5 separate regions of the Homo sapiens genome follow, and all the other regions are linked to region 1. The links come from fine-mapping of genetic effects on gene expression. A gene starts in region 1. Each other region holds a variant in brackets. All regions are shown on one strand. Distances are between the middles of the regions. Region 1 holds the start of QTGAL (queuosine-tRNA galactosyltransferase). Region 2 overlaps QTGAL (queuosine-tRNA galactosyltransferase). Region 3 has its middle 48 kb from the start of METRNL. Region 4 overlaps NARF (nuclear prelamin A recognition factor). Region 5 holds the start of LOC124904095.

Region 1 (6,438 bases):
TAAATAAATACAACTGCCCACTCAGTGAACCCAAAGCTGTGGGGCGTTTTGTGTCACTTCCTCTGCTGGTGCCCACGTGACGTCAATCATCTTTCATCAGCACCTCACTTCCCTCTGAACGAAGACCACACGATCTCCACCCGGCCAGCTCTGAGGCCCCAGGTCCTCCTTCCTGTCTCTCTCCAGGGTACAGTGTCAGTGCCTTCTGTCCGGGCCCTCTGCTGACCTCTCCCCGAGGATCTTCCTACTGCGAGGGCAGTGATCTCAGGCCCCACCACCCTTGGATTTCAGGACCCCACCTCTGCAACCCTGCATTTCTGAAACGCACCTTGGCACTTTGAATGTTCCCAAAAAGGAGATTCTAATCAAATTTGAATTAGGGGGAAGTCAGTGAAAAGCAAATTTCTGGCACCAGGAAATGTACAGGAAGGAAGGTGAGAGGCAAGCCCAGTTCTGGACACCATGTGCTGTGGAGGGGCAGAAGCCATCTGTGACCCCTGACCTCTGGCCCTTACCACCTACCTTATCATGAGCCTACGGCGCATTCTGGCAGCTACAGGGCTACTTTTTACTGAGTCCTTTACAATGAAATGATTCCTAGTACCCCAACCTCTGGAGAACATGAAGTCCCTGGAAGCAAATTCTCAGATAGCTTTTGCTGAACGGTAAATAAGGCTGCATTTTCACTCATGTGACTTAAGCAGTCCACTTGTAAAACAGGCTTTGCAAACAAGGAGGCAATTTAAGGGAAAAAAAACCATCTATGAAGTGATGCTTAACAGAAGTTTGGCTTTGTTGTAACGGTTAATTGACAGAATGATTTGCATTTAATCTTAGTTTTGGACAGCCAAGGATTTGTCCAGGAAGGGCTGCTTACAGCCATGCTCATTAATTGTGAATTACTCATTACTTCAGATCAGCTGGAACAAATCCCAAGCGGGCTTAATCTCTGTGTGCAGGCAGCCCAGGGCTAATGGCAGCAGTCCTTTTTATTGACCCCCACGGCCCTGTCCCCAGTCAACCTCCTCCAAGCAGGGAGTTTCCAGAGGCCTCACAGCCGCCTGGGAGACCCCTCATGGCAGGCTGCTCCCTTGACAAGTTCAGAACTGCTGGGGTTCCCGGCCGCGCGTTCAGGACTCAAATCTGGAGATATCCGCTCTGTGCTCCTCAAGTATAAGGTTAGATAGGGATGGGGCCTGGCCTGTGTTCCTGGCAGGGAAGGCCACCTCTGAGCTCCCCCAGAGCCCGGCCGCCTTCTCCGGGTTCCCAGCCCTGCAGTTCCCAAGGCTGCATGCGGAGGCGGAAATGAGGGCAAAGGTGGAGGGTACCCGGAGCTACTGAGGTCATGTCTTTCCCCAGGCACCCCTTCTCCTGGGGGACCTCACGGTGGGGTCAGGGCCTCACTCCCGGGCACCCCTCCTCCTGGAGGACCTCACGGTGGGGTCAGGGCCTCACTCCCGGGCACCCCTCCTCCTGGGGGACCTCGCGGTGGGGTCAGGGCCTCACTCCCGGGCACCCCTCCTCCTGGGGGACCTCCTGGTGGGGTCAGGGTCTCACTCCTGGGCACCCCTCCTCCTGGGGGACCTCGCGGTGGGGTCAGGGCCTCACTCCCGGGCACCCCTCCTCCTGGGGGACCTCCTGGTGGGGTCAGGGCCTCACTCCTGGGCACCCCTCCTCCTGGGGGACCTCGCGGTGGGGTCAGGGCCTCACTCCCGGGCACCCCTCCTCCTGGGGGACCTCCTGGTGGGGTCAGGGTCTCACTCCTGGGCACCCCTCCTTCTGGGGGACCTCACGGTGGGGTGAGGGCCTCACTCCTGGGCACCCCTCCTCCTGGAGGACCTCCTGGTGGGGTCAGGGCCTCACTCCTGGGCACCCCTCCTCCTGGGGGACCTCGCGGTGGGGTCAGGGCCTCACTCCCGGGTACCCCTCCTCCTAGGGGAGCTAACCCCGGGCACCCCTCCTCCTGGGGGGACATCTCAGTGGGGTCAAGGCCTCAGGCCTGGGCACTTCTCCTGGGGGACCTCGCCCCGGGCACCCTTCCTCCTGGATGACACCCCGGTGGGGTCAGGGCCTCACCCCTCTCCTGGGGCCGTCAAGTGTCCTGCACGCCCTGCTCTCCCTACCGCGTCTGTCTGAAAGGACGCCCTGCAGTCCCCTCGTCCTCCCCGGTCAAGTAGCACAGCCCACAGCCCGGGTGAAATGCAACGACCTTTTACATATCAGCCTTGCTTGAGGCTTTACAGCAACTCCAGGCCGCCTGGCTTGGGTTTGCAGCGCGGCGCCCTCGCACAGCCCCGCCTTCCCCGCGGCGGCGTCTACGGGGGACCAGAGATTGTGACGCGCGCCCTAGGGGAGAGCAGGAGGCTTCCACGGGCCAAGGAGGCGGCTCCGAGAGGTGACCCGGGACCGGGGCGTGGCCCAGGGCGGAAGACTGAGGCGGCGACCTCCCGGCCCCGCCCCGCGCCGAGCAGCCCCGCCCCTTCCACGCCCCTCCGGGAGGCCCACCCCTATGGACGCCGCTCTGCACCAATCGGAGATTGCCTGGCCTCAGACCCGCCTCCTGGTGCCGCCCGCGCAGGCGCCGTAGGCCGAAGCGGCGGGATGAGCGGAGCCGGCGTGGGCGGGGCGTCCGAGGAGAGCCAGGCCATGCAGGCCCACGTGGTAGGTGCCAGCGGGGAGGGTGCCCCGCCGTGCAGGCTGGGTCCTCGCGTCCCCTCACCCCGCCCTCCAGTCCTCTCTCGCTCCGGGGTTCGCAGCCCCGCACCGCCTCTCGGGCTCACCTACGGGGTCTCCGCCCTGAGCAGCCCTTAGGCCCCGCGGGCGAGCGCGGCTGCGCGTGCGGGGGACGCTCGGGATTGGAGCCCGCGGGGCGCGGCCGAGATCTGCAGCTCCGGCTGCGCTTCCTGCCCCCGTCCCGCGAGCGTGGCCTCCTCACCGACCTTCCTCGTTCTGATTTTGAAGCTTCCGGGCTCGGAGCTCAGGCAGTTCCCCGTTCGCCCTCACCTGGTCGTGGGGTGGAGGAACGGCGCACCTGCCTCATCCCCGCCCGCCTGCCCCGCGCTCCTTCCCCGCGCCCGCACACCTGCCTCGCTCCCGCCTCGCTCCTGCGCACCTGCCCCGCCCCCGCGCACCTGCCCCCGCACCTCACACACCTGGTCCGCGCACCTGCGCATCTGCCTCGCTCTTACGCACCTGCCTTGCCCCTGCACGCCTGCCCTGCACACCTGCCCCGCCCCCGCACACCTGCCCCACACCCCACACACGTGCCCCGCGCTCCTGACTCGCCCCCGCGCACCTGCCGCGCGCACCTGCCTCGCTCCCGCACCCCACACACCTGGTCTGCACACCTCCCCGTGCCCCACACCTGCCTGCACACCTGTCCGTGTGCCCCCACACAACCTCGCACCCCACACGTCTGCCGTCACACATTCCCGGCACACTTGCCCATGCCCCACACACACGTCTTGTGCCTGCACACCTGCTTCACACACCTGCTCTGCGTCCTGCATACATGCCCGTGCCCCATACCTGCCCGTGCACCTGCCGTGCACACCTGCCTGCGCATCCCACACACCTACCTGCACACCTCCTCCGTGCCCACACACCTGCCTGTGTGCCCAGCACACTTACCCCAAACACGTGCCCTAAAAACCTGCCCTTAAGCCCCGAACACCTTCCCCGTGCTCCGGCAGAGGCTGGAGCAAAGGCCCTCAGGGTTCAGACCCAGCCAATAGGCCGATGCAGGGAACAACCACAGGGATGTAGGATTAGCAGTCGCCCAAAGGCTCAGCATGTTTTCTGTTTTTTGTTTTTTTGTTTGTTTTTTTTCCAGCCTTTTTTCTTTTTTATTCCAGTCTTACTAAAATTGGTAACAGGTGAATCAAGGTCTATCTTTGATAGAAACATTATATTTTGTAGATCTTGAGAAAAATTATTTCCTTCTTTTCCTCTAAGTAAATCCAAACTAAGGTAAATTTGTAAATAAATTAGGGAACTCGTTTTATTTTTTTTTTAATTTTTATTTTTTGAAATGGAGTTTCACACTCGTTGCCCAGGCTGGAGTACAATGGCGCGAGCTCGGCTCACCGCAACCTCTGCCTCCCGGGTTCAAGCGTTTCTCCTGCCTCAGCCTCCCGAGTAGCTGGGATTACAGGCATGCACCACCACACCAGGGTAATTTTGTATTTTTAGTAGGGACGGGGTTTCTCCATGTTGGTCAGGCTGGTCTTGAACTCCCGACATCAGATGATCTGCCCGCCTCGGCCTCCCAAACTGCTGTGATTACAGGCGTGAGCTACCGCGCCCGGCCAGAACTCGTTTTATTCTTATTAACCTAAGTCCAGGAAGAGACAGAGTGAGGTTTCATTTGTAAAGAACTTGACTAAATTGTGTTTTCAACACAATTTCAACTTTTCTTTTTTGGATATAAATTAAGGGTGAGGACAGACTAATCTCTTAAGTATCGCTCCGTATCACTTAATATTATAATGTATGAAATTAAGACTTAACTCCTGTAATCAGTTGTTTTGTTGGCATTGAATTTCCTGGTTTTACTCCATCCCACTTTATAAATTTTTGTTTTGGGCTTCATGAGAAAAGGACAATGAGAAAAGGACACTAGCTACACTAGCCCGAAACGAAGTGTAGGACAAAGGAATCGAGAGATGGACGTCAGGCCTCCCATTTGCTCAGCTGGGTTCTTTGAACACCTCCTGCCCGATACTTTGTTAAAACATTGTTTTTTGTGGGCTGAGGGGTTACTTAAAGGGGTTACTTTGTTGCAGGTTTTCTAACATGGTTTGCCGAAATGCTTATTCCACCTAGAACATGACCAGCCAGCACCTGTAATCCCAGCTACTCGGGAGGCTGAGGCAGGAGAATGGCGTGAACCCGGGAGGCAGAGCTTGCAGTGAGCCGAGATCGAGCCACTGCACTCCAGCCTGGGTGACAGAGCGAGACTCCATCTCAGAAAAAAAAAAAAAAAACCAACCAGTTATTTTCATGAGTGAGTTGGAAGATACCCAGATACTTGTTTCAACCAAAATGATGTTTCTGATCAGTGATTGGAAAACTCATGATTTACCATTGAGTTGGGAACAATTTGATGCCTTTCAGTTTTTTTGTTTTGTTTTGTTTTGTTTTTTTGAGACAGAGTCTTGCTCTGTCACCCAGGCTGGAGTGCAGTGGTGCAATCTCAGCTCACTGCAAGCTCCGCCTCCCGGGTTCACGCCATTCTCCCGCCTCAGCTTCCCGAGTAGCTGGGACTACAGGAGCCTGCCACCACGCCTGGCTAATTTTTTGTATTTTTAGTAGAGATGGGGTTTCACCATGTTAGCCAGGATGGTCTCAATCTCCTGACCTTGTAATCCACCCACCTCGGCCTCCCAAAGTCCTTTCAGTTTTTTTTTCACTTTCAAAAACATGTAGAAGGCAGTTCAGGGAAAGCTAAGACGTAAAGAATCTTACAAGCATGTTAAGAGCCTGGAGAAAAGGAGTGGACACCTTTTGTTTGTCACGGCATATGTGCGGGTGGTGAAGGGGAGGTAAATTAGAGCCATGGAAAGGGAACTAAGTTTTCACACTTCTGTTAATCCATTTCTTTTGAATTCCAGTCTATTATCCTCCCAGTCCACAACGCTGAACCGTGGCTGGACGAATGTTTGAGGTCTGTTTTGCAACAGGACTTTGAAGGTACCATGGAGCTGTCTGTTTTCAATGATGCCAGTAAGGTTTGTAGGAACTTCCTGTCGGGTGACTCAGCCCCAGTGTAAGCAACGGTTGACTGTTCGGAGGGAAGTTTCCTGACCTGCCAGTGTTCTGCTTTCAGGACAAGTCTGGGGCTATCATTGAAAAATGGAGAGTGAAGCTGGAAGATTCTGGTGTCCACGTGATCATTGGGGGGCACGATTCTCCCTCTCCTAGAGGCGGTAAGTAAACATGCTTAGTTTATTAAACTATAATTCGTGGTTTCTTATCAACTTACGTACCGAAACAGTTTCATGTTGTTCAAATACTGACAAAAAGTATCCTGGTGGTAATTGGATATACCACTTATTAAGAACCTAGTAGAGGCCAGGTGTGGTGGCTCACACCTGTAATCCCAGCACTATGGGAGGCCAAGGCAGGCGGATCCTTTGAGGTCAAGAGTTCAAGACCAGCGTGGCCAACATGGTGAAACCCCATCTTTACCAAAAAATACAAAAATTAGCCGGGCGTAGTGGCACACGCCTGTAATCCCAACTACTTGGGAGGCTGAAGCATGATAATTGCTTGAACCCGGGAGGCAGAGGTTGCAGTGAACCGAGATCGTGCCACTGCACTCCAGCTGGGGTGACAGAGCAAGACTCCATCTCAAAAAAGAGAAAGAGAGAGAGAAAGAGAGGAAGGAAGGAAGGAAAGAAGGAAGAAAGGAGAGGGAGAGAAAATGAAAGAAAGAGA
Region 2 (6,438 bases), 91 kb after region 1:
TGTCCCTGCGTTCCGCGGACTCCAATCGCTGGGCCCTGGCTCGAGCTCTCCCCCTTCTGTCCCCGCGTGGTGACTGCTGCTTCCTCCTGGAGGTTCGCGCTGGGGATGGGGCTCTAGAGAAGGGCGGGTGGCGCTGGGGACGAGCCCTGGGGAAGGAAGCGCGTCCCTGACTCGGCTTCCTTTTGCCTCAGGATCCGAGTCTCCACAGCCTCTGGCCCGGCCTTCCTGGGAGTGGCTTTAGCTCACGCTTTTCTCCTCCAGGCAGTTCTGGGTGCTCCATCCCCCAAGGCTGCCCGAGGATGGTTCTGTGAGCAGATTGGGGCTGGGCGGCGGCCACACTTCCTCCACTCGGCTTCTTCCCTGATGCCTTTCTGGGTTGTGACCCCTCCCCCTCTCCCTGCGCCCCGCCAGGGGTCCTCCACACCACAGGGCAGTCCAGGCACCTGGAGGCTGATTGGGAAAAGCCTGGGGGAGGAGTGAGGCCATTTCGGGCCTCTCAGGTCTCAGCAGCAGCAATCAGGGGAGGGGAGAAAAATGGGACAGATCCTCTGCGTCCCCCTCCTCCCAGGGCAGAGGCACCACCCGGGAGCGGCTGTTGACTAAATTCTCACTTTACTGCCAGAAAATAAGAAAACCCCAAGGGTCGGGCTCTTCTGGTGATAGGAAGAGAGAAACCTTTTTTCTCTTCTTAAACCTGTAACATGTTGAGAGTTCCAGTGCTCTTTAGAGCTGCCTTTGAAGACACAGAAAATTAAAGAAAATACCTCAGTGACCCCTGCGAGGGTCCGTGTCCACCAGCACCCGCGGGAGCCTCCACCCTAAATCACCCGTGTGAGGGTCCGTGCCCACCAGCACCCACAGGAACCTCCACCCTAAATCACCCGTGTGAGGGTCCGTGTCCACCAGCACCCGCGGGAGCCTCCACCCTAAATCACCCGTGTGAGGGTCCGTGTCCACCAGCACCCGCGGGACCCTCCACCCTAAATCACCCGTGTGAGACAGCATGTGGGCTTCTGTGATTCCTTTGTCTTTATCTTATGGTGGATAAACTTTTAGCAGGGCTGACACATGATTTTGAGGTCTGTTCTTTGACTCAGCATCTTCTTACAAATCTTTCCATGTCATCGTGGTTTTTGTAAAAGGGATCGCCCTGGAGAGGCGGAGGTTAAACAGTGCCTTTTTTTTGGACGTGGAACCATAGCACTGCCTGTCTGTCCTGGGAGCAAACAGGCCAGCGGTTGGGCCGTGATAGTTTGGGGACTTTACTGACCTGCACTTGAAGTTTGTGTACCAGCCAAGGAGAGAAGAGGCTGGACTTGGTGATAGACTGGCCCTGCTGCTAGGCTCTCAGAAAACCTGCCCTTTCCTGGAGCAAAGGTGTCTCCGGGCGGCTGACCCAGGTGAGCTGCCGCAGAGAACCACGAGGAGACCAGACTCCACGCCCTGCTCCTCCCTCAGTTTTGTTTGAATTTAAGAAAGCGACAGGGGCCCGGCTCCACACAAGGCCCAGAGCCCTGGGCTGAGGATTGGGGTCACCCAGGAGAGGAGCAAGCAGAGGGCAGGGGCCACTGGGATCATGGGCCGGGGAAAGCAGGGCCCAGGTTCTCACAGGACAGAAAAGTCTGGTGGGAATGCCTGCAGAATGTTCTGGAGCAGAGTCCCACTGACATGGAGGGAGTGTTCGGGGATAAGCCCCGTGGGCTGAGGTTCAAGTTTCTGAGCTTGGACAAGTGAGCAGGGCTGGCACAGGCCCGGGGCTGCCTCCCCACTGCTGGGCTCCCCTGCCCGCAGCCCCACACGCCCACCCAGCACCACTGTCCTCTGCCCACAGTCGGCACTTTGAGTCCCTTGAGCTTCTGGGGCTGCAGCCACTGGCAGGAAAGGATGGGGACGGAGGCCGGACCAGCCATCCAGGAGCCGTGGCTGTGAGACCCTGACCCACCCCAGCCCCTTTCCTCGGCTGCCTGTCTTCCTCTTTGCCCTGAGACCTTTACTGCTCAAAATGGAATTTGGGGCAGAACCAAGACCCAGCCCACCCTCCCTTCCCCTCTTTCCCGCCTGTGGAGAAGCTCGGTTGCTCACGTCTGTTGTGGTCGCCGCCCCACGTCCCTGTTGAGCCTCTAGACCGGTTTCTTTGCAACAAAAGCCTTTTCCACCGGTTCCTGGTTGGCCGGCTGAGCGCAGGTGTAGTGTGCATCCGGGGCAGGCACGCGTTTCTGGGGCCCCAGTGATGCCTCTGCTTCTCCCGCCCTGCAGGGCGTCCCGGAGGACCTGCTGTTCTTCTACGAGCACCTCAGGAAGGGCGGCGGCGTCATCCGCGTGGACCAGAGTCTCCTGCTGTATCGCCACCACCCACAGGCGGCCACGCACTGCGTCCTCGAGTGAGTCAGCCCCGCCCGGCCCCGGGACGCCTGAGAGGCCAGGAACACGGGAGGCGCCCGAGGTCGGGGCCGGGGTTGGTGGGGCCGACCCCAGAGGCTGTGGTCAGGCTCTGCCTTGAGACCCAGGGTCTGGTGGGACACGGGGCAACAGCACATCCCGAGGGTGGCGGGGATTCGGCGTCCACGAAGGGGCATTTCCCAAGGGCGCCAGGGAGCGCCAGGGTGAAGGCCGAACGTCCTTCCCTAGTTCCCAGAGGTAAAATGACCACGCGCCGGGTCCTTCTGAAACCCTGTGCTCCCTTTAACCCGACGGGAGTCTCATGAGTGGGGTCCGGCGGGGACCACAGGCCTGGGGGGCGCAGCTGCCGTGGAGGGTGGCAGAGGCACGGCCAGGGAATCGCAGCACCCAGTGAGGACGCGCCCAGTGCTGCGGGGTCCGCCTCCCTCTCCCGTGTCACTGTGAGGAGCGGCCACGTGGGCCCGGGTCTGGGGGTGCCGCGTGGCTGCGTTGGAGCCGTGGCAGGGGTGAGGCAAATCGGGGTGAAACTG[C/TGC]ATGTAGAATTCCTTCCTTAGATCCGGGCAGACAGTTCCCTCCTTAGAACTGTGAGGACACAGAGGTCTCGGCCACCTGCCTGCCGCGTGCCGCAGCGTTAAGTTGGAAAGCAGGCCGCCGTCCGAGGCTTGCGTCTCGGCCCCTACGGGTACTCAGGGCCCCCGGAGTCTCAAGACCCCAACTAGGGTCATGTGTGGGTGTGGGAGCCGCGATGGTCCCAGGCCTGCCGTGATGGGGTTGAGACTCTCGGCAAGATCCCAGCTCCCCAGGGGGTCTAAGGTCCAAGGTCACGGGGTGGGGCTGGGGGGTTGGCAGGAGGGCCACGAGCTTCCCCATTGGGGGCATCATCCTCACTCCTGCATGCTGGGGCCTCCCGCGTCCGCGCTCCTCTCCCTTATGCCCACCGGCACCTTGGCCGCCTCCTCATGCGGTGACGTGTCCCTGACACTTCAGCTCCTTTGCAACATTTCCAGAAATGCTGTCTTGTGCTTTTGGGAAAAACTGGGTTTCCACCTTTCCCGGTGCTAAGGCGGGGCCACGGCTTCCTCTGAGGATGTAAAAAGAGAGGCATAGGGCGCCCTGGGGAGCCTGTTCTCCCTGATTAAATGAGAACTTTTTAAAATGTGAAAAATGAAGATGAACCAAATACAGACATCATGGCTGCTTCTACATTTTACCTTCCTACGATGGGCCAACATTTTCAGACCAGAGACCCCTAGGAAAGCCCAGGAGACAAGGGGCCGTCGAGGAGGCCGGTGTCAGAGGCCCCCCAAACCTCGCGTGCCACCCACGGCCACAGAGGCCCCCCGCTTTCTTCTGGAGCCCTGACTGCTTTCCTGTCACGTGAACCCCCTGGGGTCCCTAAGCTGATGTCAGTGGATGAGGAGGATCAGGCTCGTCCCCCCGCCCCGAGACACCCAACACACCCGGGCTGCTAAGGACAAGATGCCAAAACCCGGCGAGGCTGCGTCACCTGGTGGGGAAGTCCCCGCAGCCGTCTGCAGGAGCTGTCCTCACCCAGGTTCTCACACACACACACACACTGCACGTGCACACAGACCACATGTACAGCATGCACACACATACGTGCACGAAAGTATACACACGTACTCACTGCACACGCTCACTGCACACACGCACTCACGTGCACACACACTGCATGTACACACATCTGCACGGTACATGCAGGCATGTGCACTCACTGCATACATGTACTCATACTGCATGCACAGGCCCTCACTGCACACACGTGTACACATGCGTGTACACACATCCACACAGTACATACAGGCATGTACTCCGAACACCTGCACACACTGTACACGTGCTCATGTACACATGCACTCACCACACATGCACACTGTGCACACACAACATACACCCCCACACAGTGTACACACACACCATACACCCCCACACATACACACCATACACCCCCAGTGTACACACACACACACCATACACCCCCACAGTATACACACACACCATACACCCCCACACAGTATACACACACACACACCATACACCCCCACAGTGTACACACACACACATACACCCCCACACAGTATACACACACACACACCATACACCCCCACACAGTATACACACACACACCATACACCCCCAGTGTACACACACACACACACCATACACCCCCAGTGTACACACACACACACCATACACCCCCACACAGTATACACACACACACACATGCTTCAGTGTCCCCAAGTCACTGACTGGGATAAGCATCTCCCTGTGTCCCAGGTGGGGTCCGGACTATTGAGGTGGCTGCAGAGGGTTGGGGAGGAAAAGGTAGACTCCAGGCAGGACCTCCCTGACAGTGCCTAAGCCCTGCAGCTCCCTGAGCTGACAGAGGGGACCCCGTGTCCCCCCATCCCCCCCATCCCATTGCCTGTGGGGGTTCTGCTACAAACAGGGGGTGCCACAGGGTTGGGGGGGAGTCACAAGTTTATCCCGGGAGGCGGAGGCAGCAGCAGAATCGTAGAACAGCGAAATCCTGCCCCGATCCCGAGGCTGAACCCACGAGGGCCCTGCTCAGGGGAGGCCCGTCACCAGCCAGTGTTGGTTGTGTCTGGCCCAGACCCCACCCCGGAGGAGACTCCCACGGACACAGCTCCCTTGACACAGCAGAGGGCATCCCAGGACTCGGCCAGGGCAGGGTCTGTGGGGTACCGGGCTTCAGCGTGGCTACATCGCGGCCATTGGGGAGGACAGCATCTGGGACACATCCCACGCCGTTCTGGCCCCGTTGGCCTCTGCATCCCCTGCCCCTCTAGCTTCTGGCCCGTCCAGCTCCTGGGGCTTTGAGACGGGCTCAGCCCGGGCAGCTCCAGGAGCAGGGTTGAGGGAGAGGCACACACAGGCAGACAGCGATGGGGCACGTGGGGAGGGGCTGCGGTGGGAGGAGAGAGGGCGGGGCTGGGAAGGGCCCGGGCAGCGATGGGGCTGGGCGCTGGGCAGAGCAGCAGGTCATGGGAAGGAGCCTGCTCCCCCCGGGACAGCAGCCTGGGGTCGACTTGTCACAGCAGAGGGAGAACAGAGACCAGGTTCCCAGGGGAGTGGAAGGGTTCGGGGCAGCGACCCTGAGGCAGAAGGTCGTGTCCAAGTGTGAACGCTGGGATTTTATGGGATGGTTGCATGTGTCCTTATGGACAAAGGTTTCTCTGGGAAACTGGACTTGGGTCAAGTCCAGTCCTCTGCGTCCTACAGAAATTCTGCCTTCCAGAACCTTCTAGATTCTTAAGTGACAGCTTCTCATCTGTCCCCACCTGTTGGGGTCTAATGGAAGGGGTGGATCCCCACCTAGGCATGTGGCTACGTCCAGCTGGGGCAGGTGGCCTGACTGTAGGACAGCCAGTCTCTCTTAGGCATTGGGCCAGGTGTCCACTCCACTGGCAACGTGAGCTGAGCACACATCATGTCCCTGTATGTCAGCATCTGTGTGCATCTGTGGGGCCTCCGGCCTGCCTATCACCCTCTTCTCCACCGCAGGACGACCATCTGGACCCACCGCGTCCGCTTCCTGGAAGAGCAGGCCCTGCCCCGCTGGGCGGCCTTCACCATCTGGAACGCTGGCAAGCAGGGGCGCCGGCTGTACCGCAGCTTGACTGCCGGCAGCCAGCGCAAGGTGAGCATCCTGCCACCCTCCAACACTGCCTGCCCTGCCCCCGTACTGTCCCACAGCACAGGCCCTGGCCCCGGCCTGTCCAGAGCTGCCCTTCTGTGCTTGTCCCCAGGTGGTGGCATTCTGTGACGTGGACGAGAACAAGATCAGGAAAGGCTTCTATTGCCACGAGGACTCTCAGGTGTGCAGGGCCGCATGGTGTCACCCTTGGGGTCAACCACCTGCTCCGGGGCTGAGGGACAGCTGCTCCGAGCCTTCCCCCTTGGCAGAGTCCACCTGGGCCGTGCTGGCTCCTCGGGGCCTCCAGGGAGCCCAGCCCCCATTCTTGGGGGGAGAACCCCGCTGTCCCTCGTGGGTCTAGG
Region 3 (6,319 bases), 76 kb before region 1:
TTTCATACATCTGCTCGGTGAAAGCCAAGCTTTCGACAACCTGCCGGAGGCCAGCCTCGCCTGCTGCTGGCGGGAGCACGGAACAGCACAAACTTCGATGGAGGAGAGTTCACTGCACTTAACAAAATTGCAAGCGCGTCTGGCTCTGACCCAGCAATTCTAAGAATTTACCAAATCAATGTAAAAATAATATTTTTAAAAGTATGTGTCTTCGGCCGGGCGCGGTGGCTCACGCCTGTAATCCCAGCACTTTGGGAGGCCGAGGCGGGTGGATCACGAGGTCAGGAGATGGAGACCATCCTGGCTAACACGGTGAAAACCCATCTCTACTAAAAATACAAAAAAAATAGCCGGGCGTGGTGGCGTGAGCCTGTAGTCCCAGCTACTCGGGAGGCTGAGGCAGGAGAATGGCGTGAACCCGGGAGGCGGAGCTTGCAGTGAGCCGAGATCGCGCCACCGCACTCCAGCCTGGGCTACAGAGTGAGACTGCATCTCAAAAAAAAAAAAAGTATGTGTCTTCAATGATACTTACATCCTAAATGCACATCAAGGAGAGGACCGGTCAAATGTCTCGGCAGATGCGTACAATAGAATACTATGAGGCGTGAAACAGAACACGAAGTTCTTTTTGTAGTCATATGAAAAGATCTCCAATAAATAATATTAAATTAAACATAAATACGCAACCCTCAAGTGTGGGCTGTGTAGACTGACTTCCTTCCCGAGAGTATGGAGAGGGAAGGAAAAGGATCACATCACCGTGGGGAGACCTGACCGACTCCCCTCAGCTGGGTGGCCGAGGCCAGTGTCCACAGCAAGCATCCGTGCTGGGTGTGTGAGTCCCTCACAGGATGGGGTGAGCAGGGCACTTCACCTCTGGGGTCATTGTCCCCAGGCCCCAAACCCCAGTCTTACCACGAGAAACACATCAGAACAATTCTAACAGAGACGCAGCTACCAAACACCCAACAGGCCTCCTCAAAACTGTCCCAGTCACCAAAAGCCAGTCTGAGAACTGCCCAGCCCCGAGAGGCCTACGGAGACGCGGGACAAAGTGTCATGTGGGACCCTGGATGGGTCCTGGGACAGAGAAAGGACATTTAGGGGAAACTAAAGACGTGAATAAACTTCAGACTTTAGCTAACAATCATGTGNCAACACTGGTTCATTGATTGTAACAAAGTATCATTCTAACATAAACTGTTAACAGTGCAAGAAACTGGACGTGGGTATGTGGGAACTCTCTCTACGATCCCCTCAATTTTCTGTAGACCTAACACTGCCCTAAAAATAAAGTCTATTATAAAAATGAAAGAAAATTTAAAAATTTTTAAGTAACAAGGAGAAAAGTGTATGTAACATCCTGCCGTTGGTGTAAAAGTCAGGGAATATGTATTTGTATTGAACTGTATGTGCTAAAGGACCTCTGGGAAGTCACCTAAGACACCAGTGACAATGGCTGCCTCTTCCAAGAGGCAGGACTGAGCAGACGGGAGAGGAGGTGGGAGGAGTGAAGATTTTTTAACACATTTTGAAGTTGGAAATTTGTAAACTCGTTATTTAAAATGCTTAAATAAGGGAGGAGCGGGGGCTCGCCTCATGGGACCTGTCGAGGTGAATAAAGCAATGATTGTGAGGCCTCCCAGTGACGGTGAACTCCACCTACGGGATCCGCACAGGAAACATCACCCTTCGTCCTGGCCTGACCCGGCCCCGGGCGTGGTGGAGACCAATGCTCACTCCCCCGTTGCTGCAAAACCTCGGTGGCTTTAAACAACAGCAACTTCATTTTCTCAGGAAGCTGCCTCTGGGCAGCACCCCTGGGCTTGCCTCCGCTCCACTCAGCGCTGGACAGTTNTCTGAAGCTTTAGCAANCCCAGCCAGAGTCCATGCTCCTTTGAACACAGGTCCAAGAGCCCAGGGTCTGCGAAGCCCAGGTCAAGAAGCTCGGTGAGAGGTCTGAGAGGCAACAGGCGGGACCCACGGACACCAGCATGAATGTCCCGTTCCTCTCACTCTGTCTGGCGCTGGGATCCCGTAAACCTACAGCACATCCCACTGCAAATGTGAGGGCTCCACAGGAGACTCCTGAGTGGCACCGGGGAACGGTCAGCCCACAGGGCGTCAGGGGCCCTCCCCCAAATCCCTTCCCGGCTCCAGGATCTGCCCCTTTCTCACTTGGACTCCTCTTCCTAAGACAGGTCTTGCAAGGCTGATGGGGAATCAGAGAGAACGACCTGCTGGCCCAGCTCAGCGGTGTCGGGTGCTCTCCTGGGTGCCAGTTCCCAGATGCCCGGGTGTAGTCTGCAGAACCAGCTCCGTGTTATGCTTGAGAGTGACTGGTAGGTAGCAGGAATTCAACAAATACGAATCAAATGAACAAATGTTTCATAGCATTGTTCTGGAACCCCCTGGAAAGGGGCTCCAGGACCATGTGATCTCAAGGGTGCATTCTATGGGGGACACCCCTTTACGAGAAAAACTTGGGACTGTGACGTACCCCCTCCCAAACTGGGAAGGGTCAAAAGACCAAGAAATGACTCAGAAGGGTCCACGTTATCTGACGAGTCAATGTGTTGATCAGGATTTACCAAGGACACTGCTGCACAGTGGCAGGACAGCCCTGAGACCTGCGCCGCCTCCCGTCTCCAAACTATTTTAAGCTGATCTTCTGGCTTTGCCTCCTGTGTGTGTGTGATGGGGCTGTTTCCTCGGTGGGTTCTCAGAGCCTCTCCTCGATCTTTGGGTTCTCAGAGACACCAACTCCTGGCCTGGGCACCAGGGCCTTGGCTCACCACCTGGCTTTCAGGGCCCAGGCTGCGAACACAGGGCCTTAAGAACCTGGTGGGGGACCTGCCACCCTACAGATCCCACACCCCACCCTACAGATCCCGCACCCCACCCTACAGATCCCGCACCCCACCCTACAGATCCCACACCCACCCTACAGATCCCACACCCACCCTACAGATCCCACACCCCCCCTACAATCCCACACCCACCCTACAGATCCCACACCCACCCTACAATCCCACACCCACCCTACAGATCCCACACCCACCCTACAATTCCACACCCACCCTACAGATCCCACACCCCACCCTACAGATCCCGCACCCACCCTTCCAGCGTGGGGCTCTCGGAGAGGACGGCCTGAGCTCTTGCACTCAGCCCCTCGTGCTGTGGTGCCTGCCTTGCATTGAACCTCTCAGTGTCCTGTGGTCAGTGTCTGCCTGGGGTCGCGAGGACAGCTGTGGGCTGTGGTCTGAACATGCACAGGACCAAGGGCCACACACAGGGACATGGTCACGGCTGCTGCTGCTCAGGGAGACAGGCAGAGTCCAAAGCGTCTGTGCCCGGAGGGGCCATTGCCTGCCTCTGAGAGCAGCATCCTTCAGGCCGACTCTGT[C/T]GTCCCCAGGCACTTCCCATAAGTGACGATGTCTGCTATTGCTTGCTTTATTTTTTTTTTTATTGTTGGACAAAATTAAAAGTACATTTAAATCAGTCCTCAGCTATGGGGGGTTACTTAACCGGCCCATGAAGTCCAAAGCCAGCAAGCTTGTTTCTGGATTTACGGTTGAAGCTCGTGCCAAAGATGCCTCTGCGTTGGGAGGGGAATGTCCGTGTGCTACAAACCACACACACTTCAAACCCCCACAAAGCCCACACTGGGCTGCACGCATCAATGACGAGCCAGTATTTAACAAGGTGTCTGAATATCAGAAGGGTCTTCTCATTTATAACAGTAATGTAAATTTACAGACAGTTGTAAGAATTGCAAATTGTCCAAAACCTGCTTATCCTTCAAAAATGACAGTCTTCAGAATTCCATGAAAAAATAATGTCTCTTCCATAATAAACACAAATATTTGAAACACAGAAACAAACAGGTTGTTTCATAGAAACAGATGCCCAGGCGTCCACCAGACCAGAGGGCAGTGGTCACTCAGAGAAGAGCAGGGCCCTGGGAGAGCTGGCGACCGCCACGAGGCCAGAACTATGCATGTTCTTTATGAACTCCCAAAGGGTAGATTTTGCTGTGCTATGCCCTGGACTTAAGCCAGGATGACCCTCAACCTCCTAGGTAAATGACTAAACCCAAGCCCGCTGATGCAAGGTGGGTCCTGACCTCTGACCCAGACACTCCACCATCCTCTTTGAGCTCCTTGCGGTGACACACGTCCTCGGGGCCTGTCCAGACAGGGGTTGTGGCATCTGATGGCCATCAGCTTGTCTCAGAGACCAGGGGTCAGCCTCAGGTGCAAGCCCAGCTGAACAACAGAGGCCCTGAGCAGCCCCAGCCATTCCAGCCACGCCACTGTTCTTGTCCTCAGATTATTTTCTGTGCAAAGGGAAAGGGGCTGTTGCAAGAAGCAGACCCTCCCTGGTCACGGCACCCTACACTGCCCAAGGCTTCCCGGTCCTGACTGCCCCCNACAGTCGTGCGGCTGCCCCAATGGCCAGAGCTGCCTCTGCTGCCCCCAGCATTCAGTGGAGCAGGGGTGCAGGGTGAATGAATGGTAATCCGTTCAGAGAACCTGAGCAAACGCTGTGCAAGCTGCTGGCTTTGAAAGGAAGTTGTCATCACATGCAGGGAACCCTGTCTTACCAGCCGACAGGTGGATGACCTTCTCCCCTGGCAAATCCCCAGAGAAACAGACTCAGAGCTTCCCTCAGGAGTGACAGCCCCACAGGTTCCCTGCATGAAGGGACAGAAGGTCGGACCTTGCAGGTCACCAGGGGTCCCCTCTGCACCCAGGTCCATCGTCAGGGCTGGAGTCAAGCTGGGCTCCACCCGCTCAGGTGCAGGAAGCCAGGGGTTCGAGGGCGAGGGTGTGGCCTGCGTCACCTGCCACATGCACATATTTCCTACTGACGCCTGCACGCTCCTGATTTAAGGTGACGTCTTTATAGCACTAAGCGCGTGGTAAAAATAAACCCACACAGCCCATCCGCCGCACTGTGTTGCAATTTATTCTCTTAGGAAATTTCCAGCGAATGGCTACAGAGTTGCCGAGGTTGAGCTAGAATTTCAGTTCTTCAAGGACCCAGGTCTGCGCGGAACCCAGGGGTGTGGCAGGAAAAGGGACCAGAAGCCACATGTCAAGAGCCTGGGGGAGGCTTCTGCCAGCAAGTCTGACCACAGCCATTCTGATGCGGAATCATCTTTTTTCCCTGAAGCATTCCAAGGCCTGTACAGGATGCCAAAGAGCTGCTCTAGCTCCTTACAGAATGGATGCGGGCTTTTTTCCTGTGCAGGTGGGAAGGAGGCTGCAGGAGCCTGTCAGTGGGAGCTGCTCCTGCCGCAGCCGCTGCCAGCTCTGTTCTGAAGCACTGGGAACAAGAAGGCATCGACCTGTGTGTGTGCAGGAGAGAGAGTGTCGGCTTCAGGCACTACGAGCCCTTGGAGAGCAGAGATGCCGGGCTGTGTGCCCGAAGGAGAGCGGAGAGGGATAGGGGTTGCCAGGGCTCGGGGAGACCACAGCCCAGAGGTTGCAGATGCCGTCAGGGCTCAGGGAGACCACAGCCCAGAGGTTGCAGATGCCGTCAGGGCTCCCGGAGACCACAGCCCAGAGGTTGCAGATGCCGTCAGGGCTCCCAGAGACCACAGCCCAGAGGTTGCAGACGCCGTCAGGGCTCCCGGAGACCACAGCCCAGAGGTTGCAGACGCCGTCAGGACTCAGGGAGACCACAGCCCAGAGGATGCAGACACCGTCAGGACTGGGGAGACCACAGCCCAGAGGTTGCAGACGCTGTCAGGACTCAGGGAGACCACAGCCCAGAGGTTGCAGACACCGTCAAGGCTCCCGGAGACCACAGCCCAGAGGTTGCAGACGCCATCAGGACTCAGGGAGACCACAGCCCAGAGGTTGCAGACGCCATCAGGGCTCAGGGAGACCACAGCCCAGAGGTTGCAGATGCCGTCAAGGCTCCCGGAGACCACAGCCCAGAGGTTGCAGACGCCATCAGGACTCAGGGAGACCACAGCCCAGAGGTTGCAGACGCCATCAGGACTCAGGGAGACCACAGCCCAGAGGTTGCAGACGCCATCAGGACTCAGGGAGACCACAGCCCAGAGGTTGCAGACGCCGTCAGGACTCAGGGAGACCACAGCCCAGAGGATGCAGACGCCGTCAGGACTGGGGAGACCACAGCCCAGAGGTTGCAGATGCCATCAGGGCTCAGGGAGACCACAGCCCAGAGGTTGCAGACGCCGTCAGGACTCAGCCCCTGGGCCAGGGGTGCCCTCAGGCTGCTTCCCAGGGAGGAGCTTCATGGGCCCCATCCGGGGGATGCTCCTCTTTCTCGGGCTCCTTTG
Region 4 (5,596 bases), 580 kb after region 1:
TTTGGCAACTCGCTCATTTTCCCTTTCTGAACTTGCACACTGACCATCATGCTATGAGGATGCTCAAGGCTGTAAAAGCCCCTCTATAAGCAAATGGAGGGAGGCAGTTCCCCTTTGACCAAAGCAGAAGACGCAGAAGCATCATCCATCAACATTTCAGGTAGTACTATTCCAGCGTTGACATCCGAGTTCTTTTATTATATTCTTAAATTTCTACCTTTCATTCCTCAAGTAAAGAACACAAGCCCATTCCCTTTCTGCTCTGCTCTTCAGAGAGCTTCTTGGGAAACCAGATACTAATCATTTCAGAAGTGACTGTTTATCAAATGCACACCCTCTGGGGGTAAGGGGTGACTTGGAGGTTGCTGGGCCAGTGTGGGAATCTCCCAGTGTCCTGTCCGTGTTGTCAGAAGGTGGTCACTGTTTGGTCCCAGAGGGGTCAGCTCCCACTGTGTAACAAAACACCTGTCTGTGCACAGCAAAGGAGAAAAGTGACACTCGTCTACCATCGATCAGAGGCTGGGTTTCATGACACACGGGACATGGTCTTTTTACGTTCCAAGAGACTCTTTTGGAAGTTGCTTATCTACCCTGCGTCCTTGAAAAACGAACTTTAGAGATTAAAAAGGGCGCTTATAAACTCAAGTTATACATTCCCAATTTATCAAAAGATGACTCACCAAGACTTTTGAGGAAACCACAGAGTCTTCTGGATGCATCAGTTACACTGAGGTTGAATTTAGCAGCAAAATAAGGCAAAGATTGAGGACACACAGACACTACCAGCACTTTGTGCTTTGAGGTATCACATTTCTAGAAGGAGAAATAGAGAATGTTAGGTATCTGCTGATTACACAAGGAGTAAAAGTTACACACCTTAATGAGAAATTCAGAACAACGTTAATAGATGGTCTATGCAAAGACTAATAAAATAGACAAACACTGGCAAACATAATTAAGAAAAAGGAGAAAAAAAATCAGGATTATGGTGAGGTTTGGGCTTCTGGTAAATATTTTTTTAAAAGTCAGGATTTAAAAAATGAAACATGAGCTGGCTTCAGTGGTGCATGCCTACAGTTCCAGCTACACAGGAGGCTGAAACAGGAGGATCACTTGAGGCCAGGAGTTTGAGACTGCAGAGCGCTATAATCACACTTAGGAACAGCCATAGCCACTGCGCTCTAGCCTGAGTGACAGAGTAATACTCTGTCTCAAAAAAAAAAGAGTTTCACCCTTGTTGCCCAGGCTACAGTAAAAAAAAAAAAAAAACAGAGTTTCACCCTTGTTGCCCAGGCTACAGTACAGTGGCGCGATCTCAGCTCGCTGCAACTTCTGCCTCCCAGGTTCAAGTGGTTCTCCTGCCTCAGCCTCCCAAGTAGCTGGGATTATAGGGACCTGCCACTACACCCAGCTAATTTTTTGTCTTTTTGGTAGAGACGGGGTTTTGCCATATTGGGCAGCCTGGTCTCAAACTCCTGACCTTGTGATCCACCTGCCTCGGCCTCCCAAAGTGCTGGGATTACAGGTGTGAGCCACCTAGCCTGGCCAATACTCTGTCTTAAAAGAGACAAGACTACAGATCTAAAAGACTTTGTCAATTTCAAGAACAATGTTATATCAGTAAATGTGAATATCTGGAAAAAATAAATAATTTTAAAGGGAAAATACAAATTACAACATTGGCCAATGAATAAGTGAAATTACTACACAACAATAAAAAAAACAGACACACTAAAATGGTATCCAGAGATGCCTCTTAAAAGTCATCAGCCCGGCTGGGCATGGTGGCTCATACCTGTAATCCCAGAACTGTGGGAGGCTGAGGCAGGCGGATCATTTGAGGTCAGGAGTTCAAGATCAGCCTGGCCAACATGGCGAAACCCATCTCTACTAAAAATACAAAAATTAGCTGGGTGTGGTGGCATGTGCCTGTAATCCCAGCTACTCGGGAGGCTGAGGCAGAAGAATCGCTTGAACCCGGGAGGTGGAGGTTGAAGTGAAATGGAGGTTGCAGTGAGCTGAGATTGCTCCACTGCACTCCAGCCTGGGCGACAGAGTGAGACTCCATCTCCAAAAATAAAAAATAAAAAAATAAAAAAAAAGTTACCAGGCCTAAGATGTTTTGTGAGTAAGCCTCATCTACAAACTGTTCTAAAAAAATACTGCATAAACTAGCATAAACTAGATGTTGGCAGCGCAATAGAAGACAGGTTCAGATATAAGAGTCAAGGGCCAGGCGTGGTGGCTCATGCCTATAATCCCAGCACTTTGGGAGGCCGGGGCTGGTGGATAGCCTGAGGTCAGGAGCTCGAGACCAGCCTGGCCAAAAGGGAGAAACCCCATCTCTACTAAAAATACAAAAGCTAGCCAGACATGGTGGTGTGCACCTGTAATCCCAGATACTCAGGGGGCTGAGGCAGGAAAACTGCTTGAACCCAGGAGGTGGAGGTCGCAGTTAGCCAAGATCGTGCCACTGCACTCAAGCCTGGGCGACAGAGTGAGACTCCATCTCAAAAAAGGGTCAAGAAATAGACACGCAGTACAAGGGTGGGGTGGAAGTAATGGGGAAAAAAAAAAAAAAGAAGGCCAGGTAC[G/A]GTGGCTTATGCCCGTAATCCCAGCACTTTGGGAGGCCAAGGCAGGTGGATCACTTGAAGCCAGGAATTCAAGACCAGCCTGGCCAACATGGTGAAGGCCGAAAAAAAAGAAACAAATGGATGCACATCTATCAATATATAAGAGAGGTAGGATAATATTTCAGGTCAACAGGGGAAGAACAGAAGATGCTGGAACAATTTGATTTTTTCAAATAGAAAAGAATGTATCTGGCCGGGTGTGGTGGCTCACGTCTGTAATCCCAGCACTTTGGGAGGCCGAGGCGAGCACATCACTTGAGGTCAGGAGTTCGAGACCAGCCTGGCCAACATGATGAAACCCCATCTCTACTAAAAATGCAAAAATTAGCTGGGCATGGTGGTGCCTGCCTGTAACTCTAGCTACTTGAGAGGCTGAGGTAGGAGAATTGCTTGAACCCAGGAAGGAGAGGTTGCAATAAGCTGAGATCACGACACTGCACCCCAGCCTGAGAGACAGTGAGAGACTCCATCTCAGAAAAGAAAAAAAAGGAAGAAGAATGTATTCACATCGCACACCGTACTAAAATATAAGTTGTAGACTGGACAAGCAGCATAAGATAAAATATAAACTGTCAATAAACATCATCTAGGGTAACCAACTTCTCTAAATAAGCAAGAAAATGCAAATGAGATACAATTCTCTATGTATCAGGGGGGAAAAAACTGAATTTGATATTGAATGTGACCAGGATGGCTGCACACAGCTGTTTGCCCCTATCACTTAGGGAAGCATAAAGTGACACAGACACTTTCAAGGGTTTTTGCAAAAACCGTTGACACCACAGAATTAAGTCTCTAGTAGTCTGCAAAGCTGTATCCACTAAGTCTGTTCAACGTAACAAAATGGCTGAAGCCATTCTGTTCCCTGAAAGGCCAAGGGTGAGCAGGTGGGGACGGGTATGCATGGCGAACCTGGCTGATGGGTGGGGGGCATCTCCTGGTTCAGACCATCCTATCCAGGCAGCCTGCTGCTTGCTAACGGAGTTCCCGTGCAAGTGCATATAAGTCAGGGTACACCCAGACACAACTAATGCTGGCAACACAGAGGACATGTGTCTCTATCTGCAATTGTGATCTAGGTCATGGGTGGTGGCTGATGCCTATAATCCTAACACTTTGGGAGGCTGAGGCTGGAGGATCGCTTGAGCACAGGAGTTCAGGACCAGCCTGGGCAACATGGCAAAACCCTGTCTCTACAAACAATACAAAAATTAGGCAGGTGTGGTAGCACGCGTCTGTAGTCCCAGCTGCTCTGGAGGCTACAGGGAGCCTCCAGAGGTGGGAGGATCACCAGAGTCTCCCCACTGAGACTCTCTCCACTGCACTCCAGCCTGGGTGAGGCCCTGTCTCACAAAGAAAAATATTGTGATCTAATTGCTGCTGGATGACTTGTCCAGAAGCCATGGGGGTGAATGGCAAACGCTGAGAAGGCTCCTTGGCTGTCCCCTATGCCACCCACTTGTGCCAGTCAGTGTTTCTTGAGGCCCCTACCTTGCTCTAGCACACTACCTACTGTGAATGGGCTCCTACACCCTGGGCAGGGTAGGATGCCGGTGCTTCCCGTGGAGGTGACAGCATGGAAACCAAGAAGTGCTTTTCAGCCTCATCTGCCTTTGTCTCTTTCTCTTTCACCTGTGATATGGTTTGGCTCTGCGTCCCCACCCAAATCTCATGTGAAACTGAAGGCTGGGCCTGGCAGGAGGTGACTGGGTCATGGGGGCGGATCTCCCACTTGCTCTTCTCATGATAGTGAGTGAGTCCTCACAAGATCTGGTTGTTTACAAGGGTGCAGCACCTCCCCCTTTACTTGCTCTCTCCTGCTGCCACGTGAAGACATGCTTGCTTCCCCTTCACCCTTCCGCCATGGTTGTTCCCTGAGGCCTCCCCAGCCATGTCTCCTGTAGATCCTGTGGAACTGTGAGTCAATTAAACCTCTCTGCTTTATAAATTAGCCAGTGTCACGTAGTTCTTTGTAGCAATGTGAGAATGGACTAATACAACCTGTCTCACGGAAAGACAAGTGGCACCTCTCGTTCTGTATAGGAGGTCTGCAGGGATGAGCTGAAGGAAGGAGCTTTGGGAATTTTTACTTCCTTGGAGTGTCTCTGCCTTGCCCCAAGCTGATCGGTCTATTAGAACATAACTCTCGTGTCCGAAAACGTGCAGCCGAGGCAGAACAGCAGGAGCTCCGGCTCTGTGCTGCCCGCATGATCACCAACACCCGTGTTACCTGACCTCACCAGGCAGAGGCCCCGCTTAAGCCACAGGAGCCTGAGGGGTGATGCCAGCCCCCCACCACTGCCTGAGCATTATTAAGGGAGCAGGAAATTGTGCGGGGATTTTGCTCTTGATGGAGAGGTTTGGAAGGTCAAAGCAGGATGTTAGCAACACCAGGAAAAGGCTGAGATGTGCATCCGATGTCCCAGCAGAGGCTTCTGTGCAGGAAGCCAGGCCTCACCTCCACTTCCTCCAGGTCAGCTCCCCAGCATCAGCAAATGCCCCGAATGCCTTACCTTGTTAAGGTTCAGAACGCGGAAGAAGTCCTTGGCATTTTGCTGGGAAAGTTGGACTCCTTCCTCTGCAGTCATACAGCTGTCACATGCCAGGCAGTCGCTCAAAAATATCTTGGCATCAGCCAACTTGTGGAATTCTCCCTTCTATGAAAGATGACGTTTCAGCATGATTATTCAACAAATACTCTTTAATGTGCTTCTTTAGAGAGGGTAACACCCATATACAGAATTCACAGTAAACATTGGAGATAATACCAGGGTCCAGGCCTGGTGCTCAAGGGGCTGGAAGCAGGACAGTCTCTGCCACTGAGCAGCTCAAGGTGGTGAAGGGACACAGGACACAGGGCCCAGCCCACAATGACACTAGGGAACCATGCAGATGACAAGGGTGGAACCCAGCCCTAGCACTGTCACGTGGTAGGAAGTAAATGACCCCTGTGTTCTGGAAGC
Region 5 (6,438 bases), 110 kb after region 1:
ATCCAACTGCGATCATTTCCCTCCTGCCTAAAGTTTATCCACTAAAGCAGTGGTTCTCAACCAGGGGCACCCCCAGAAGATATTTGGCAGTGTCTGGAGACATTTTTTTTTCTTTTTGTCACAGCTGGGTAGGGGGATGCTGCTTCCATCTGGGATGTTGCTGAACACCCTGCAATAAACAGGACAGCTCTCAAAACAAATGACTCAACCCCAAATATTAAGCCAAGATTAAAAAACCAAACAGATAAGAATGGCATATTTTTATCTAAATGACTTAATTTTGTTCTCTTCTTTAATGTTATGCTGTGGGCACAATTCAAGCAACTTGACAGCTATTTTCTCTCAGCATAATGAAGACCTTGGTCTACTCACTGCTCAACTCCAGTGCTGCTGCTGGGAAATTGGTAGTCGTTTATATCACTCTGTCCTTCTTACAGTTCTGCAGTTTCACTGTGGCAGGTCTAAATGTGAGACTGTTAGGCTTCTGTATCTGGGGACTGTTGCATGTCAGTATGGAATATCTGCATCATTTCATTTCATTCTGAGACCCCAATTACCCAAAGGTTAGACATTCTTCAATGTCTCTTGATGTTGCTGTCATATCTTCCAGTTCTCTGGATAATGTTTTCAGATCTTCCAGTTTTCTAATTCTCTCTTCAGCTGTGTCTAAGCTATCCATTGAGCTTTTCATTTCACTTCTTACATTTCTAGGGGCTCTGTTTTTTTCTAATCTCTTCTTGATCATTTCTAGCCCTTTTCAAAAATGTACTCATATTATAGCCTACATTCTACCAGAGAGGTTTTGTATTTGCATCTTCTGCCCTTGTCTGGGAATACCACTGGTCAGGGCCAAGTCAATCAAATTTTCCACTTTAGGAGTTTTGGGGATCATACAGGTAGTATTAATTCAGGCCACTTCAGGGGAGATAGATTGAGATAAGAGTCTTGCTGCTGTTCCTTTGAAAAAGACTTATTTAGGGTCCCAGCTTTATATAGTGGTCCATTAGATCTGGCCCTGGGCCTTAAATTCTCTCATCCATTCTGCTATCAAAATAGCGTGACTAGATTCCAGGGCTCAGCAGAAACCCTCAGGATCTCCAAGGTCTCTGCTCTCACATGGAGGGTTTCTGGTTAGCACCTAGAACGTGTTTGTGGGTACACAAATCCCACATCAGCTCCCCGGTCCCAGGGATACTGGCTTCTTGCTGCTCTCTAAACTCACAAAGCTTGCTCCACTTCTGGGACCACAAGCATTCTCTTTTCTGCCATTGGACACAGTCTGGACCTCTGCCCAAATGCTGCCCCTTCAGAGAGGTTTTCTGAACACCTTCTCGGAGTCAACACCCAACATGCCATTCCATTGCCCACTTTATCTTTGTTCATAGCACTCAGTGTTGCCTGCCTTGATGGTGCTTGCTTGTTCATTTGCTATTGTCTGCCCCAGCTATCATGTGAGCAAGGGGTTCCTTGCCAAACTCTATCACCTGGACCCTGGTGGGCTCCAGAAACGGCTGCTGAAAGAGGGCTTTCCAGGCCACCAGGTGTCTGGTGAGCACAAGTGCCCCAGTGATGGATGGGATCCAGTGGGAAAGAGGCAGTGGCCAGTGGAGTGATCCACTTTCCTCGGGTTGCTAAGTTAGACCGACATTAAAAGAAGAACTGCTTTGCCACATAGTGTCACTGATGGGTCTGGGTGGGTAATCGACCTGCCTCCATGTCTTAAAATGCCATTTATCTGGAATCTTCTTTTAATTGCACTAAGAACAGTTCATCATGTTTTTCTCAGAAGCCACTTGTTCCTTCCATCCTCAGTGCATCCCAGGCCAGCAGGAGCTTTGTGAGCTGCAGGCATGGCGATGGTGCGCCTGTTCCACACCCAGCAGGCGCAACCAGAGTCTCGTGTGTGCCGACCACAGGAGCCAAGCCTTTTCCACTGTGTGGACTCATGTGGCCAAGGCTAGGCCTGGTCACCCAGGACCCTCACCACGTGACCCCAGCCAATCGGGACAGTTCAAGGAGGAGGAGACCCCTATTACACAGGTTGGAATAAAATATTTAAATCTCGTAAAAATGTAACCCAAGGCTCTTTTAGGGTATAAAGACCATTGGCCACCAGGTCAAACACAACAACAGTAGTGTGTTAACCCCACACTCCTGTGTGGCCAGGTCGTCACACACATCCCGTGAAGAGCTGTCTGCTAAACACACAGCACGGACTGTCACAGTCCTGGTCTTGTGGTCCTGGTGACCTCACAAGCCTCACAGATGCGGTGGCACCTCCCAGTTCTCGGCCTGCCCATGTTCCTGTGTCCAGGCCCCATCCCCACCTGAGAGCAGGCCAGGGAGCCACCCTAATCTACACCACGCACATGGCACCCCTGGGCTCCTCACATAGGGAAAGGGTTGCTCACCCAAGCCCTTGGGCCTCTGAGTGGCCACACCTGGGGCTGCTTTGGTGCTGCTGGCCGTGGTTCTGCACCTCAAGCCCTATGAGCACAGCACAGGTCCCAGAGATGGGTGTGGGTTGCTACCACAGTGAAATTTTTATACACGTTCCCCTCACCAGCTTTGGGATGGATCAGCACGAGCTCAGACACAGAGACAAAGGTAGCCTCCTGCCCTTTGCCTAAAAACCCAAGTGTGGACTCTGCCCAGGCTCTCCTAAGACAGTGTAATTATTTCAAGAATGGTATTTATTTCC[G/C]ACATTACTGTAGAGGCACACATTGGACTCTGACGATTCCCCTTGCAGCAGACATTTGTGAAGCTGCTGGTCGGCACACCCATCAATCAGTGACTCCTGCACTGCAGAGGGGCCACATGCACGATGCTCACGTGTGCACAGGGGGGAGGACAGCACCCCCACCAGGCAGACGGGCCCAGAAACAGCATCTGCCCAGCACTCCAGACCATGCCTGCCACCAGGGCTTCTCAGTTCTCTAGCATTTGAACCTCTGATTTAACATTCATCTCTCTCCAAGACTGGGTGGGGCACTGCCTGTGGCCAGACGTCTCCCACAGCAGGGACAGCACCAGGCAAGAAGGGGGCCTGGTCTCCAGGCAGGAGGAGTGCAGCCCACCTCCCCTCTGGCTGACCCCTGGGCAGTGAGCCTTTCCATCACCCCTACACACATCAGGCTCAGAGACAAAAGGCAGGAACTTCTTGGTACATGATTTTATAGGAAGCACATTTGTGTTCAAGTGAAGGCAGAGGCGTCCACCCCAAGTCACCAGAGCGCAGGTGCAGAGAGGAAAAGCTGTCAGCTAGTGCCAGCCTCCAAGGGCCAGCGCTACCCTTCAACAGCTGGAGGCACCACTGTGCGAGGCTTTCCACACCGGCCTCCCTCAGGAACAAGACATCCTCACCAGGCAGGGGTGAGGTATGGGCTCCAGGACTGGCTTCAGCAGGCACCAGGCTGAAGAAGAGACAAGACAAGCTCAGGCTGGTCAGCTCCAACACACACCATTCCCAGCCAGGGGACCCTCACCCCTCTGGGCCCTGTGTGGGGACTGACACGGTTCCTGCAGGAAACCATTTGTGCCGTTTCCCACACACCCGGCAGCCTGAGCTATGTGGCTGACAGGTGCTCATGACTAACGTGTCCTCGGAAGGGCACCCCATCTGGGGAGCGGGAAGGGAGGTTCACTGCACTGCTCTTAACCTGCATTCACACGTTTGAAATTTTTCCTAATAAAAATGTAAAAAGCACATTTAATTCCAAAGTCTGCTGTTGAGTTCAGCCTTTACACACACAGAAATGGGGGAGGCTGTGTCCTGATGCTCAGCCCATCCCCACTGCCCCCATGTATCTAGACATGGTTCTCCTCCTCCCTCTCAGATATAACCTCCTGCCGGAAGGAGGCTGAGAGGAAGGAGCCAACCCTGGTAACTAGAGAGACAGCACAGCAACCCTGGGCCCCAGCCCCCGAGAGAACTGAGGTACTTGTTTTTGTTACTTTAGAAGAGTGACGGGCTGGTGAGGTGCACAGGGGCAGCTTCTGGGGGCCTCTCACCCAGCCCCGGCCCCACTCATGGGAAGCAGATGAGGAGGGGTAGGGTGGCACTCTTGGCACTTGGAGCACAAACAGACCCCAGGGCCAGGCATGAGGAGCCTGGATCAAGCTGGTGCCAGCTCCACCCACTCCCCGGCCCCCCAAACGCCCCAGAGCAAGTGGCCTGGATGCCACAGGGGCCCACAGGTGTGGGCAGTGGCCAGAGAAGGCAGCTCTGCTGGTCCCGTAATCCCAGGGGTCCTGACATGAGACGAGGGAACGGGCCGTGTGGACGTGCTGGCAGAAGCTAAGCACAGCCGCTGGCCCCAGAACATTCCAGAGCTCAGGGAAGCACAGGCACCTCATGCTGTGAAGGTGACAGGGTTACCTGGGGCACCAGCTGGGGCCTGGGTACGCCCAGAAGGTCACACAGACGGTTGCGCTGCTCTCTCACCACTGCAAGCTCCGCGTCCCTGTGAGGAGAGGGAGAGCCGTGAGTCTCTCGAGTGCCCACCGGAGAACCTCAGGTGTGCGGAGGTCCCGCGTCAAGCTTCCATGGCCGCAGTCAGGGAAAGGAGACCTCACCCCCGACATCCATAGCCAGGCTGAGGGCAGAAAAGACGTCACAGGAGCACGTTCTCCAGCAGAGCCTCGAGCCTGAGCCCTTTCCGGAATCGCAGGAGGACGGTTCCTTCCCAACAAGGGGTGCCCCTCGGGAAGGACCACGCCCAGCGCAGGGACTGCGGGAGGACAGACCAAGCGAGGCCAAGGAGGGGCTGACAAGGGTTTTCCAGGTTTTAATTTAGCTGTTGATGCGAAATAAAAATTCTAGCAATGCTGTGGAGATATCTGGGGCATGTTTTTCGTTTCTAATTTAAAATATTCTCTTTAAATTCTAAGGATTTTTTTTTTTAACAGAAAGGGGATTAAACGATAGGAGAAGCCCCCAGGCCCACCCTGCTAGTTCCTCCCTCCCTGATGTGAGGAAAGGAGGCCACCCCGACCCAGCCTCGCTGGAGGAGGCCTCGCCCCGCTCGGGACACCTGGCTTCTTCAGTCCTAAAGCCAATTATTTTAGAATCTGGTCCAGAATGCACCTTGGTGTTTTTTTTTAAAAAAATCATTGTAAAAACGGGTCTCCAGAGCAGTAGTTAAGATGGCCATTCTCTCAACGCATGTTGAGAAGACAGCCCAGCTGCTCCCGGTTCCTCTCCTGGGACCACGTGTTTGTTTAGGAGCAGACACACACTCCTCCCCAAACCAGAAAACCTCGCGGAAGCCCTGGAGAGGCCACCTCTGTCCTCCGAGGCCACAGCGGCTGCCTGGTGCGTGAGCTCTATGGGAACCCAGCCCTGTTGGAAGGTCACTGTTCCGAGGAGACACCTAGGGAACGTCACCTACGTCCTTGCTGGATTCAACAAGGGGCGTGGACCCCACAGACCTGTAGCAACGCACCGGGATCAGCACGGAGGCCCTCACAGTCGGCACTCAAAACAGAGCAGCATCCACAGGCAGGACACCTGGGACTCCACCACCCCGGGTATGCCATGTGGACACCCACACAGCCTCTGGTTGCTTCAGTCCTGATCTCCAACACGGGGTGACGAGACTGCTCCCCTTTTAGAAGTGTGTGTGTGTGTGTGTGTGTGTGCGCGCGTGCAAGTGAGCATGTGTGTGAGCCAGCATGGGTGCCCATGCCCATATGTGTAAGACACCATCACTGCTGTTCCCAGGAACATACCGGTTGGCCCAGGACACCTGAGCCTGCACTTTCCCCACTCTGCTCTCATTCAGACCCTCCCACCCCCAACTCAATACACACATCTTTCAAAACCGCCATTCTACTCCACCCATGGTAAAGAAGCCAGCCCATGTTGCAGAAACTGTGCCTGCCAAAGTAAACGTGGAGAGTGGCACTATGGCCTCCTGAGGGCCTCATGGCCCTGAGGAAGGGGGTGGACATCAGAGCAGAGGCGTGGGGAGAGCTTTTCTTATTTCCGCCTGTGCCTCTTGATTTCCAACAGGTGCTCACACGGCCTATTCCAAGAGAACTTTAGAGAGGTCTGGGGCAGCAGCACCTGCCAGGCCTTCAGTGCCCTCTGCTCCACAGGCCACCAGACACAGCCTTGTGGTACAGGTGCCCGCTCCCCTGGTGGGATGGATGGCTTTGCTGTGTTCCTGACACCTGACACTGTTTGGGGACAGGGCGGTTGAGAAGAGGTTTCGGCTACAGCAGCACGGCTGCCTTGTAAAACCTAAGCAGAGGATGTGGAGACCTGGGAACCCTCTTTCCTCCTCCTATCAGAGGGTTTTGGGAGAGACGAGTAGACACGGTGGGGACAGGAAGAGGGGCGGTGCCAGGCCCAGGTGGCCGTGCAGGAAGGGCCTTCACTCACCACGCAGTGTCACTGAGCACAGTCACCACCTCGTCCAGCACATCCGCGCCCAC

The links.
Region 2: its variant is fine-mapped to the expression of QTGAL in nasal epithelium (TOPMed, PIP above 0.99).
Region 3: its variant is fine-mapped to the expression of QTGAL in whole blood (TOPMed, PIP above 0.99).
Region 4: its variant is fine-mapped to the expression of QTGAL in hippocampus (GTEx, PIP 0.90).
Region 5: its variant is fine-mapped to the expression of QTGAL in cerebellum (GTEx, PIP 0.96).

What each region holds. Positions count from the first base shown.
Region 1 is chr17:83,047,960-83,054,397 of GRCh38, reverse strand. QTGAL (queuosine-tRNA galactosyltransferase) reads left to right here and starts at 2,628. Exons shown (of 13, transcript NM_001009905.3): 1 at 2,628-2,661; 2 at 5,613-5,729; 3 at 5,828-5,927. The coding sequence starts at 2,647. LOC124904094 reads right to left here and starts at 3,211. Exons shown (of 4, transcript XR_007065967.1): 1 at 3,153-3,211.
Region 2 is chr17:82,957,000-82,963,437 of GRCh38, reverse strand. QTGAL (queuosine-tRNA galactosyltransferase) reads left to right here. Exons shown (of 13, transcript NM_001009905.3): 8 at 2,257-2,381; 9 at 5,944-6,079; 10 at 6,189-6,257. Among named protein-coding and RNA genes, the nearest start is that of QTGAL, 92 kb to the left of the region's middle. The variant C/TGC (reference allele first, on the strand shown) is at 2,931.
Region 3 is chr17:83,124,427-83,130,745 of GRCh38, reverse strand. No RefSeq gene overlaps it. Among named protein-coding and RNA genes, the nearest start is that of METRNL, 48 kb to the right of the region's middle. The variant C/T (reference allele first, on the strand shown) is at 3,410.
Region 4 is chr17:82,463,981-82,469,576 of GRCh38, reverse strand. NARF (nuclear prelamin A recognition factor) reads right to left here. Exons shown (of 11, transcript NM_012336.4): 3 at 5,147-5,290; 4 at 681-813. Among named protein-coding and RNA genes, the nearest start is that of NARF, 8.0 kb to the right of the region's middle. The variant G/A (reference allele first, on the strand shown) is at 2,595.
Region 5 is chr17:82,939,424-82,945,861 of GRCh38, reverse strand. TBCD (tubulin folding cofactor D) reads right to left here. Exons shown (of 39, transcript NM_005993.5): 37 at 6,386-6,438; 38 at 4,379-4,463; 39 at 1-3,413. The coding sequence ends at 3,399. It overlaps QTGAL (queuosine-tRNA galactosyltransferase), which reads left to right. Exons shown (of 13, transcript NM_001009905.3): 13 at 1,813-3,713. It overlaps LOC124904095, which reads right to left and starts at 4,372. Exons shown (of 1, transcript XM_047437261.1): 1 at 3,785-4,372. The coding sequence starts at 4,356. The coding sequence ends at 3,808. The variant G/C (reference allele first, on the strand shown) is at 2,702.